Linked DNA regions of Homo sapiens: region 2 is linked to region 1. The links come from fine-mapping of genetic effects on gene expression. A gene starts in region 1. The other region holds a variant in brackets. All regions are shown on one strand. Distances are from middle to middle.

The links. PIP is the estimated chance that this variant, and not a neighbour inherited with it, causes the effect.
Region 2: its variant is the best candidate, but not a certain one, in a credible set for the expression of RNF103 in whole blood (TOPMed, PIP 0.61).

What each region holds. Positions count from the first base shown.
Region 1 is chr2:86,621,649-86,626,648 of GRCh38, forward strand. It overlaps RNF103 (ring finger protein 103), which reads right to left and starts at 2,217. Exons shown (of 4, transcript NM_005667.4): 1 at 1,013-2,217. The coding sequence starts at 1,238. All of the region lies in intron 2 of RNF103-CHMP3 (RNF103-CHMP3 readthrough), which reads right to left. RefSeq lists silencers at 1,038-1,087, 1,268-1,347, 1,618-2,157, 2,238-2,407 and an enhancer at 2,118-2,412.
Region 2 is chr2:86,548,351-86,553,350 of GRCh38, forward strand. The region is part of intron 3 of RNF103-CHMP3 (RNF103-CHMP3 readthrough); the gene reads right to left. The region is part of intron 1 of CHMP3 (charged multivesicular body protein 3); the gene reads right to left. Among named protein-coding and RNA genes, the nearest start is that of CHMP3-AS1, 11 kb to the right of the region's middle. RefSeq lists an enhancer at 4,369-4,538. The variant C/T (reference allele first, on the strand shown) is at 2,492.

The sequences.
Region 1 (5,000 bases):
TCTATCACGCTACATGTCTATAAGGTACTAAAGAAGGAAAAGATTTGTCTTGTAAAAGATACAGCTGACAAAAATACTTGAAACAACAAAAAAGATAACCATCAGTTTCAGCTGCTTCCCACAGCAACGCAGAAAGCCTTTCTCAAATTACATTCCACTTTCAGGAAGTATATCCAAAGATATACTTTGTGCAGCAGTGAAAAAAATTAACCATATTTCTCACCCAATCCTACCAAAACCAACAATTACTAAAAACACATTCTTTAAGACATTGAATATTCTCTCAGCACTATTTCACGTATATTTCTCAACCCATTAAACAATGCAAGGGTACCTGTGACACAGAAGACAAAAAAAATTTTTCTTTTACACATCCAAGATGCAAATTTTTAAAAATCCTAACAGAAATATAATATAAACTCGAACATGGCAGGCATTTATACAAAATGCTCGCCTTATTTTCACCAAACTTAAAGTCTGAAAAGCTAATACTGTACGGTGTATACTGTCTATATTCAAACTCATGATTTAACATTTAAATCCTAGGCCCAAGTGCCTCTGATAGTAAGTATTCCAAAGATGTGTCCCCACTCTGGGTATCTTATTATTACTATCGTGACAAATATTGCTATTGACAGACAACGTTTTGGAGTTTTTCTTACGTTTTTATGAACTTCAACTGACAAATAATGCTTTCCAGTTTGTAACTAGTTGATATTCCAGAATTTTGAGAAAATCACTCAACTTAGTAAACAACGCTAAGAAGCCACACTTTAAACTGTCATTTTACGATAACCTTAAAAGGATACACCAACACTCCTCCAAATAATTTCAGACTCCTCCTCAAAGCTGGGATCCGCATACTTGATTGTAGGAAGCTTGGACGAAGAAACCTGGGCAGCTTTAACGCTTCCAGGAAAGGCCTCACTCTGGGGGAACAGCCAGGTACCAGGAGGTACAGGTCGTCCCCTCTCCCAGGTGGAGGGGACCCTAGGGGAAGCCCGATACTCGCCTGACTTTTCCACCAGCTCCCGGACATCCTTCTTCTCGGGCAACCCTGAGTAGCCCAACCCCCGGCACTCCAAAATGGTCTTCAGCTTCTTGAAGCTCAGCGCCACCGGATCCACCAGCTGGGTGGCAAAGATGCCAGTTTCATACCACACAATGGCCTCAAAAAACCTGGCCAGGACGAACAGGACCAGGAAATAGAGGAGCAAGAAAAAAAGCTTCAGCCACATCTTCCCTGGAGTTTCCTCTCTTTCCAGAGAGCTCGGAATACGGGAGAGAGAAGGGTCGAGGGCGGGGGCCGCGGCTCGGTGGCAGCTTGGGCGAGGGCCCCGTGTCCACGCGCGGGCCACCCGGCGCCGTCACTGGCCGGCCATCCCCGGCGGGGAAGCAGGTGACGGGATCCGCGCGGGCGCGAGGCGGCGACGAGGGACGCAGAGACGCAGAGCCTCGCGCCGGGCCTCCCAGTCAAGAGCCGACAAAAATAAAGGGGAAAAACTCAAAACCCCCATCCATTAAGCACAGAAAGGAGAGGGGCGCGGGGAGAGCTCGCGGGGAAGAACAAAACGAGGGACGCTTCCCCCGGGGCGGGCACTGACCCAGGTGGCGGGGTCGGCCCTCCGGTGCCGCGATCTCAAGGGGGAGGGGGAGACCAAAAAATAACTCAGATCCGCCCAGGAGGCGGGGATCCGGGCGGCAGGCCGGGGCCCGAGGGGCCGTGGGGGCCGGACTCCCGCGGCCGCGGGTCAGGAGGGCGCGGCGCTCGGCCGGGCCAGGCCCGGGGCCCAGCGTGTTCTGCGCGGGGAGGAGCGGCCGCCGCAACGCCGCGCCCGAAGCCCAGGCCCCAGGCCCCGCCGACCGCCCAGGCTCCGCGAGAAGAGCGGCGGGCACGGCGGCGGCTCCAGGTTCGCTCGGGCCGGCTGGCGGGCGGCGCCTCTCAGGCGGGCGGGCACTGCGGCCCGGCCCAGGATGGGGCGTCGCGGTCTCTGCAGATGGAATCGGTCTCGGAGGGAAAAAACCAATAATAGGCCCCGAGACTGCTCCTCCAGGCGGCTACCCGGCTGCCTCCCGGCCACTCAGCGCCCGTCCCGCTCGGATGGGCAGTGCCGGTCGCAGCACCCGTCCCCAACACCCCCGCCACCTCCGGAGACCGCGGCCGTACCCTCCACAACCGTGTATCAGCGGCGGCCGCGGCCGGAGCCGAGACATAACAACTGACGTCGCGATGAGGCGGGGCCGGGGCGGGGCCTGCAGGGTGCGCCCGCAGGGGCCGAGGGCGGGGAATTCGGGGAGCCGCGGGGCTACCGGACTACCGAACGAGGGGCGGGAGGAGAGGCGGAGCCGCAGCGTGGTCGGGGCCTTCCCGCGGTGCCGAAAGTTGCCTCTCCGTGCTTTTGCGGCGTGGTCTCCCCTTTTGCCCCTCCAATGTTTAGCAATTGATTTTGTCTGAGGATTAGTCTTTAGATTGTATCACTTTGTGTATTTTTTGTAAAAATAGAGCAGTTAATTATTCTCTTAAAATCGGTGAAAATAGAAATGTACGTTTTTTGATGAATCCTGGTGAACAGGGAAATTTTTGGCACAGTTGGTTTGAGATGGTAGAAGGTTAAACCCAGAAAGCAAATGTTTTGCCCCCTCTTCATGAGAATGTGGCTTTGCACATGTGTGTTGGAGGAGGTTTGGCCAAAACTGGAGTTCGCGTTATACTAGGCCCAGTTGTCGCTGCCAGTTACAGCCTTTTCCCTCCTTCAGTCTCAAGGGTGTTAAAAGCCTGGTGTGGACTCCCTGAGTTCCTAGGACAAAGATTGTCGAGTGTAGATAAGTCCAGGTGCAAAGTTCCGGGTGCTTTATTTTGTACATGGGCCTGGCACAGTGGCTCACGCCTGTAATCCCAGCACTTTGGGAGGCCGAGGCGGGCAGATCACGAGGTCAGGAGTTCGAGACCATCCTGGTTAACACGGTGAAACCCTGCCTCTATTAAAAATACAAAAAATTAGGCCGGCGTGGTGGTGGGCCCCTGTAGTCCCAGCTACTCGGGAGGCTAAGGCAGGAGAATGGCGTGAACCCGGGAGGCGGAGCTTGTAGGGAGCTGAGATCGCGCCACTGCACTCCATCCAGCCTGGGTGACATAGCAAGACTCCGTCTCAAAAAAAAAAAAAAAAAAAAAAAAAAAAAAAGAAAGAAAGAAAAGAAAAAAAAGAGTCACATGGACAAGCATGCGATACCTGGTTCTGTGCTTATAAATTTAACCGGGCCGAGCGTACTCTTTACGTCAATCTCTGTGTCAGTCTTGAGGGAGGAAGGAGTTGGGTTCATAAACTGAACAAGGTTGGCTTTGACCAGCCCCTTTTGATAAGGAAGGAAAAAAAAAACAGTAATTACGGGGAAATGTTACTATTTGTGCAAAACTGTCAACTATCTGAAACTAGGGGTGAAAGTTTTAGGAAGAAAGGGATCATGATCCCAGGTCATGGAGCAAGGGAGGAACGGGAAGCAAAGAATGGACTGTGAGAATGTAGCCTCCGAATGGTGCCCATTTAAAATAAAGTGAACAAGGGCATTTCAGTGCCGGGCTAGTGGGGGAGGAGTTGGAAGGGGATGGGCCCAGGGAGCATTGAGAATCAGAGGAGGAGGTGTAGGAATGTCCAGCCAGCAACTGGACACTGCCCCTGTGTCTTTAGCTTCCATGTGGCTTTGTTCTCGTGGCTGGCAGATCAGTGTGGGAGACTGTGTTAAACAACTGATTCTAACAAGCCTGGTTCTGAAATTTCAGAATTCTTGGGCATGTCTTGGTGACCCTTTGATGATATTGTCCAAACCTTGACACTGAAGGTGATGTCCCTCACCTCAAAGGAATGTATGTACTCGCTAGTGAGGAGAGACTGACCCAATCTCAAAAATACAGAATAGGCATGGGCAGGGAAAGTTGGTGTGTGAGCTGAGGGTGGAACCAGTCAGGCCAGAGTTCCAAATTGGAAAAAAACATTAGAGTGTGGGAGGGACTAGAAAGAAGGAATTAAAGAACTCTTTTTAAATTTCTTGTTTGTTTCAACTGCCTCCCATCCCAACCCCCTTGCTTTGTTTCATTCATGGTTAACCCACAGGAGGGATAAAAGCATTGATAAGAGAACACATTGGGTCATCTGAATAAGAGAGTATGGACAAGCACATTCTATGTTGGTGGGGTATACAATGTGGGTTAGAAGCCCCCCATAAAATACAAGCTCTTTGGCACAGTAATCTCTCTTCAGGAAATTTATCTTGAGGAATAATTGGACATGGGCACAAAGATGTGTGTATAGAATTTCGTCGTTGTTGCAGAGTTAATGCTGGAAAGAAAAAAGGAAGAACCCAAATATCTAGTGACAGAGGATTGATCAAATACAGTAATTCAAATGATGAACCATGAGGCAGCCACTAAAAAGAAAAATGTAGACACACGGTTATGGACATGGAACCATGTCCAAAATATAGTGTTTGGTGAAAAAAACCAGGTGACTGAGAAGTTTGCGTCATATGATCCTATTTTTGTATCTGTATTACAAAAAGACAGAGATGTATCCACTAAATTGTTAGGTGTATTCACCTCTAAGTGATGGGATTTAGAATATTTTTTCTTTTATGCTATATCTCTGTTTTATTATATTTTCTGAAATAATCATGTATTACTTTGTAATCTAAAAAAAAAACAACAACAACAAAACAAAACAAAAAAACCCACTAGGACTGTTTTCCTGGTCCGGAGGTTTAGCGGCAGCGGTTCATCCTCTGGGACTCCAAAGATGACAGGGGTTGGAGGTGTGGGCTGTCTTCCCATGAGATTGATTTCAGTTTCCACTAAGCCTAGCTGGGCAGACTAATTAGAATTTATTTTCAAAAACAGAAGAATGTATGAATTATTCATTTTCATAATCTGTTTTTCTAATAGGCTATTAATCTGGGTTATTGGTTTTATATCTCAGATTCTGTTCATATGTAGGATGGCTTAAATGCTT
Region 2 (5,000 bases), 73 kb before region 1:
GTGTCCCTGGGTACGTGAGATTAGGGAGTGGAGATGACTCTTAATGAGCATGCTGCCTTCAAGCATCTGTTTAACAAAGCACATCTTGCACCACCCTTAATCCATTTAACCCTGAGTTGACACAGCACATGTTTCAGAGAGCACGGGGTTGGGGGTAAGGTTATAGATTAACAGCATCCCAAGGCAGAAGAATTTTTCTTAGTACAGAACAAAATGGTGTCTCCTATGTCTCCTTCTTTCTACACAGACACAGTAACCATCTGATCTGTCTTTCTTTTCCCCACATTTCCCCCTTTTCTTTTCAACAAAACCGCCATCGTCATCATGGCCTGTTCTCGATGGTCACTGTCTCTTCGGAGCTATTGGGTACACTTCCCAGATGGGGTGGCCGGGCAGAGGCACTCCTCACTTCCCAGACGGGGCAGCCGGGCAGAGGTGCTCCTCACCTCCCAGACGGGGCGGCCGGGCAGAGGCGCACCTCACTTCCCAGATGGGGTGGTGGCCGGGCAGAGGCGCTCCTCACATCCCAGACGATGGGCAGCCGGGCAGAGGTGCTCCCCACCTCCCAGATGATGGGCCGGGCAGAGGTGCTCCCCACCTCCCAGATGATGGGCAGCTGGGCAGAGGCGCTCCTAGCCTCCCAGATGGGGCGGCCAGGCAGAGGCGCTCCCCACCTCCCAGATGAAGGGCAGCCGGGCAGAGGCGCCCCCCACTTCCCAGACGGGGTGGCGGCCGGGCAGAGACGCCCCTCACCTCCCAGACGGGGCGGCCGGGAAGAGGCGCCCCTCACGTCCCAGACGGGGCGGCCGGGCAGAGGCGCCCACTTCCCAGACTGGGCAGCCGGGCAGAGGCGCTCCTCGCCTCCCAGACAGGGCGGCCGGGCAGAGGCGCTCCTCGCCTCCCAGACGGGGCGGCAGGGCAGAGGCGCTCCTCGCCTCCCAGACGGGGCGGCCGGGCAGAGGCATTTCTCACTTCCCAGATGATGGGCGGCCGGGCAGAGACGCTCCTCACTTCCCAGATGGGGTGGCGGCTGGGCAGAGGCACTCCTCCCTTCCCAGACGGGGCGGCCGGGCAGAGGCGCTCCTCAGTTCCCAGATGGGGTGGCCGGGCAGAGGCGCTCCTCACTTCCCAGACGGGGCGGCCGGGCAGAGGCGCTCCTCACTTCCCAGACAGGGCGGCCAGGCAGAGGCGCTCCTCACTTCCCAGATGGGGTTGCAGTCAGGCAGAGACGCCCCTCCCCTCCCAGAAGGGTCGGCCGGGAAGAGGCACTCCTCACCTCCCAGACGGGGCGGCCGGGCAGAGGCGCCCCTCACTTCCCAGATGGGGTGGCGGCCGGGCAGAGACGCCCCTCACCTCCCAGATGGGGCGGCCGGGCAGAGGCACCCACTTCGCAGACGGGGCGGCCAGGCAGAGGCGCTCCTCGCCTCCCAGACGGGGCGGCCGGGCAGAGGTGCTCCTCGCCTCCCAGGCGGGGTGGCCGGGAAGAGGCGCTCCTCGCCTCCCAGATGGGGCAGCCGGGCAGAGGCGCTCCTCGCCTCCCAGACGGGGCGGCCGGGCAGAGGCGCTTCTCACTTCCCAGACAATGGGCGGCTGGGCTGATACGCTCCTCACTTCCCAGACGGGGTGGCGGCCGGGCAGAGGCTGTAATCTTAGCACTTTGGGAGGCCAAGGCAGGTGGCTGGAAGGTGGAGGTTGCAGCGAGCTGAGATCACGCCACTGCACTCCAGCCTGGGCAACATTGAGCATTGAGTGAGTGAGACTCCGTCTGCAATCCCAGCACCCCGGGAGGCCACGACGGGCAGACCACTTGAGGTCAGGAGCCGGAGACCAGCCAGGTCAACAGGGCAAAACCCCGTCTCCTCCAAAAATGCAAAAACCAGTCAGGCGTGGCGGCGCACGCCCGCAATCCCAGGCACTTGGCAGGCCGAGGTAGGAGAACCACGGGAGCCCGGGGCAGGGAGGCTGCAGCGAGCCGAGACCACGGCAGTACAGTCCAGCCTCGGCAACAGAGGGAGACGGAGACGGAGAGGAGAGGGAGAGAGGGAGAGAGGGGGAGAGGGAGAAAGGGAGAGGGAGAAAGGGAGAGGGAGAAAGGGAGAGGGAGAGAGAGAGGGGAGTTCTTAAACAAGACACAAAGGCAATAACCACTAAAAGGAAAAGGCTTCTTATATTTATCTATATTGAAATTAAGAATTTTTATTCATCATGACTCCATTAAGAAAGTAAAATGTTACAAACTGGGAGATATATTCGTAATCATATAAATGGTAATAAATAAAAGGCATTTACTTATTTTTTAAGAATGGAATTCTCAATATTGTACAGTCAGCCCACTATATCCATGGGTTCTACATGTGTGGATTCAACCAACTACAGCTCAAAAATATTTAAAAAAACAAATGGTTGGCTGCATCTGTATGGAACATGTAGACTTTTCCCATCATTATTCCCTAAATACAGTGTAACAACTATTTACAGAGCATTTACATTG[C/T]ATTAGGTATTATAAGTAATCTAGAGATTAAAGTACACAGGAGGATGTACATACGTTATATGCAATTACCTTTTTCTTTTTAAATCAAGTACTTCAGCATCCATGGATTTTGGTATGGGCGGAGGGACCCTGGAACCAATCCTCCTCAGATACCGAGAAATGACTACATATGAAAATCTGCAGGATAATTTAAGTTTCTGAATGATATTGTCTTCTTCCAAAGAGGAATTACATTTGCTTCTGGCAAACATATAGCTTAAGTGTCCTGGCAATTGGTTCTTAACTAATCTTAATTAATCCTATCAGGGGATAGAGATTATTTGAAACTGGTCTTCAGTCTTTGTGAAAGCCAGTCTACTTCCAGGTCACTATTATTGCTAAGGGGTATTCTTTCAGAGTCCCAACCACAAGCCCTGAATATCTGCTTATGAACTCCAATTTTTTTTTTTTTTTTGAGATGGAGTCTCTCTCTGTCACCCATCTCGGCTCACTGCAACCTCTGCCTCCCAGGTTCAAGCAATTCTCCTGCCTCAGCCTCCCAAGTAGCTGGGACTATAGATGCCTGCCACCACGCCCAGCTACTTTTTGTATTCTTAGTAGGCACGGGGTTTCACCATGTTGGCCAGGCTGGTCTCAAACAACTGACCTCAGGGGATCTGCCCACCTCGGCCTCCCAAAGTGCTGGGATTACAGGTGTGAGCCACCATGCCCGGCCATGAACTCCAATTTTTATACTCCCCAACCACAGGGTTTGTCAAAAACTCTACTCAAATTCTATTTGTCACCCACTGCATTAGGAATTAGAGGATCTCTTTAGGGGGAAGGTAGTCCCAAATGATTGGGTTCATGTAACTGAGCTTCCCTCTTTGCTGAGATCTTGATTTTGCAATTTCTCACTGCCCTGGTAGCTTTCAGTGATTTCAAATAGTTACACTTTTTGTTTAGCTCTTTTAGTTATTTTTGGCAAAGGGTTGGTTCAAAGCAACTTAGTCTATAAACACCTTCATGATTTTTTAAAGAACATGTTTCCCAGTTCTGTTCCATAAAAAGGCTTAGAAGCAGGGATACTCGAATAGCAAGAAGCATCAGGCTCACTCAAATTTTGGTATCTAAATAGCATTCCCGCTAAAAGAAACCACTGCATCTTGGAGAAATGGCCGATTTCAGGTCTCAGGCTAGGAATTCACAAATCATACCAGGATATATGCTAGAAAACAAGGAAGTATTCAAAGATTAGTAAAGTTATGCTAAAAGCAGATAGGAACTGGCTTGAAATAGCTCCCACTGACCAAATGTATAAGTTTTTCAGTATCAAACAGAATAATGGTTAGAACTATAACACACTAAATATATAAAAATCCATGAGTCCAAAACGGTGCTTCTGAGAGGAACGGGTGGAGAGAGAATGCAGTTGATACCACCGGATATTATTATACCAATTCTTTATTCTAAATATTAGCAATTAAATAAAGAGCATTAAGCACTTATCCTGCATTTTCAATAGAAACTCTATGTCAAGGTAACCAAATAGCCCCAGCTAATAAGGGACAGATCTTTATAGAACACTGCCAGCTAAAAATGAAAAAGAAATCAGAGAATTAGAAAAATCACCACTCTAAAAACCCTTATAGAATAGCTGATTCAGGAAAGGGACACCTATAAATGTTAATGTGTCTAAGTGAAGGATTACTGAAGAGCTGGACATTCACATGGTGCTAAAATATCACCCCTCAGGTTAGTTACTAGCATAAAAAGGAAAACATAATGTAAAGATCTGGTGTGTCACTACCTCAACCAGGTGGCCAAAGTTATTAGCATCATTAATTACAAGACAGACATTATATGCCTCCTGATGTGATACACTATGAATCACACAGGTTACCTGTGAGGCATTCTTGCTAAAATTGTTTAACCTGGATCTTATCAAACTTAGATCCAACTTCCATTTCATAGAAAACACAGGGGGTAGAGAAAAAAGCTAACCACAAAAGGAACAAGATCATGTCCTTTGTAGGGACATGGAAGGAGCTAGAAGCCATTATCCTCAGCAAACTAATGCAGGATCAGAAAACCAAACACTGCATGTTCTCGCTTATAAGTGGGAGTTGAATGATGAGAACACATGGGCACATGGAGGGCAACAACACACACTGGAGCCTGTCAGCCGGGGGTGGAGATCGGGTGGGGGCAGCTTGATGGGGGATGGTGGGGGAGGAACAGCATCAGGAAGAACAGCTAATGGATACTGGGCTTAATACCTAGGTGATGGGATGATGTGCGCGGCAAACCACCATGGCACATGTTTACCTATGTAACAAACCGGCACATCCTGCACATACACCCTTGAACTTAAAAGTTGGAGGAAAAAAAAAAAAAGCGATAACCACAAGACATAGACAAAACCATAACAAGGAACATTCTACAAAACAAATGCTCTATTTTACAAACGAGTCTTTATTCTTACAATGCTATAAGTAGAAAGCAGGGGATATTTATTTATTTATTTATT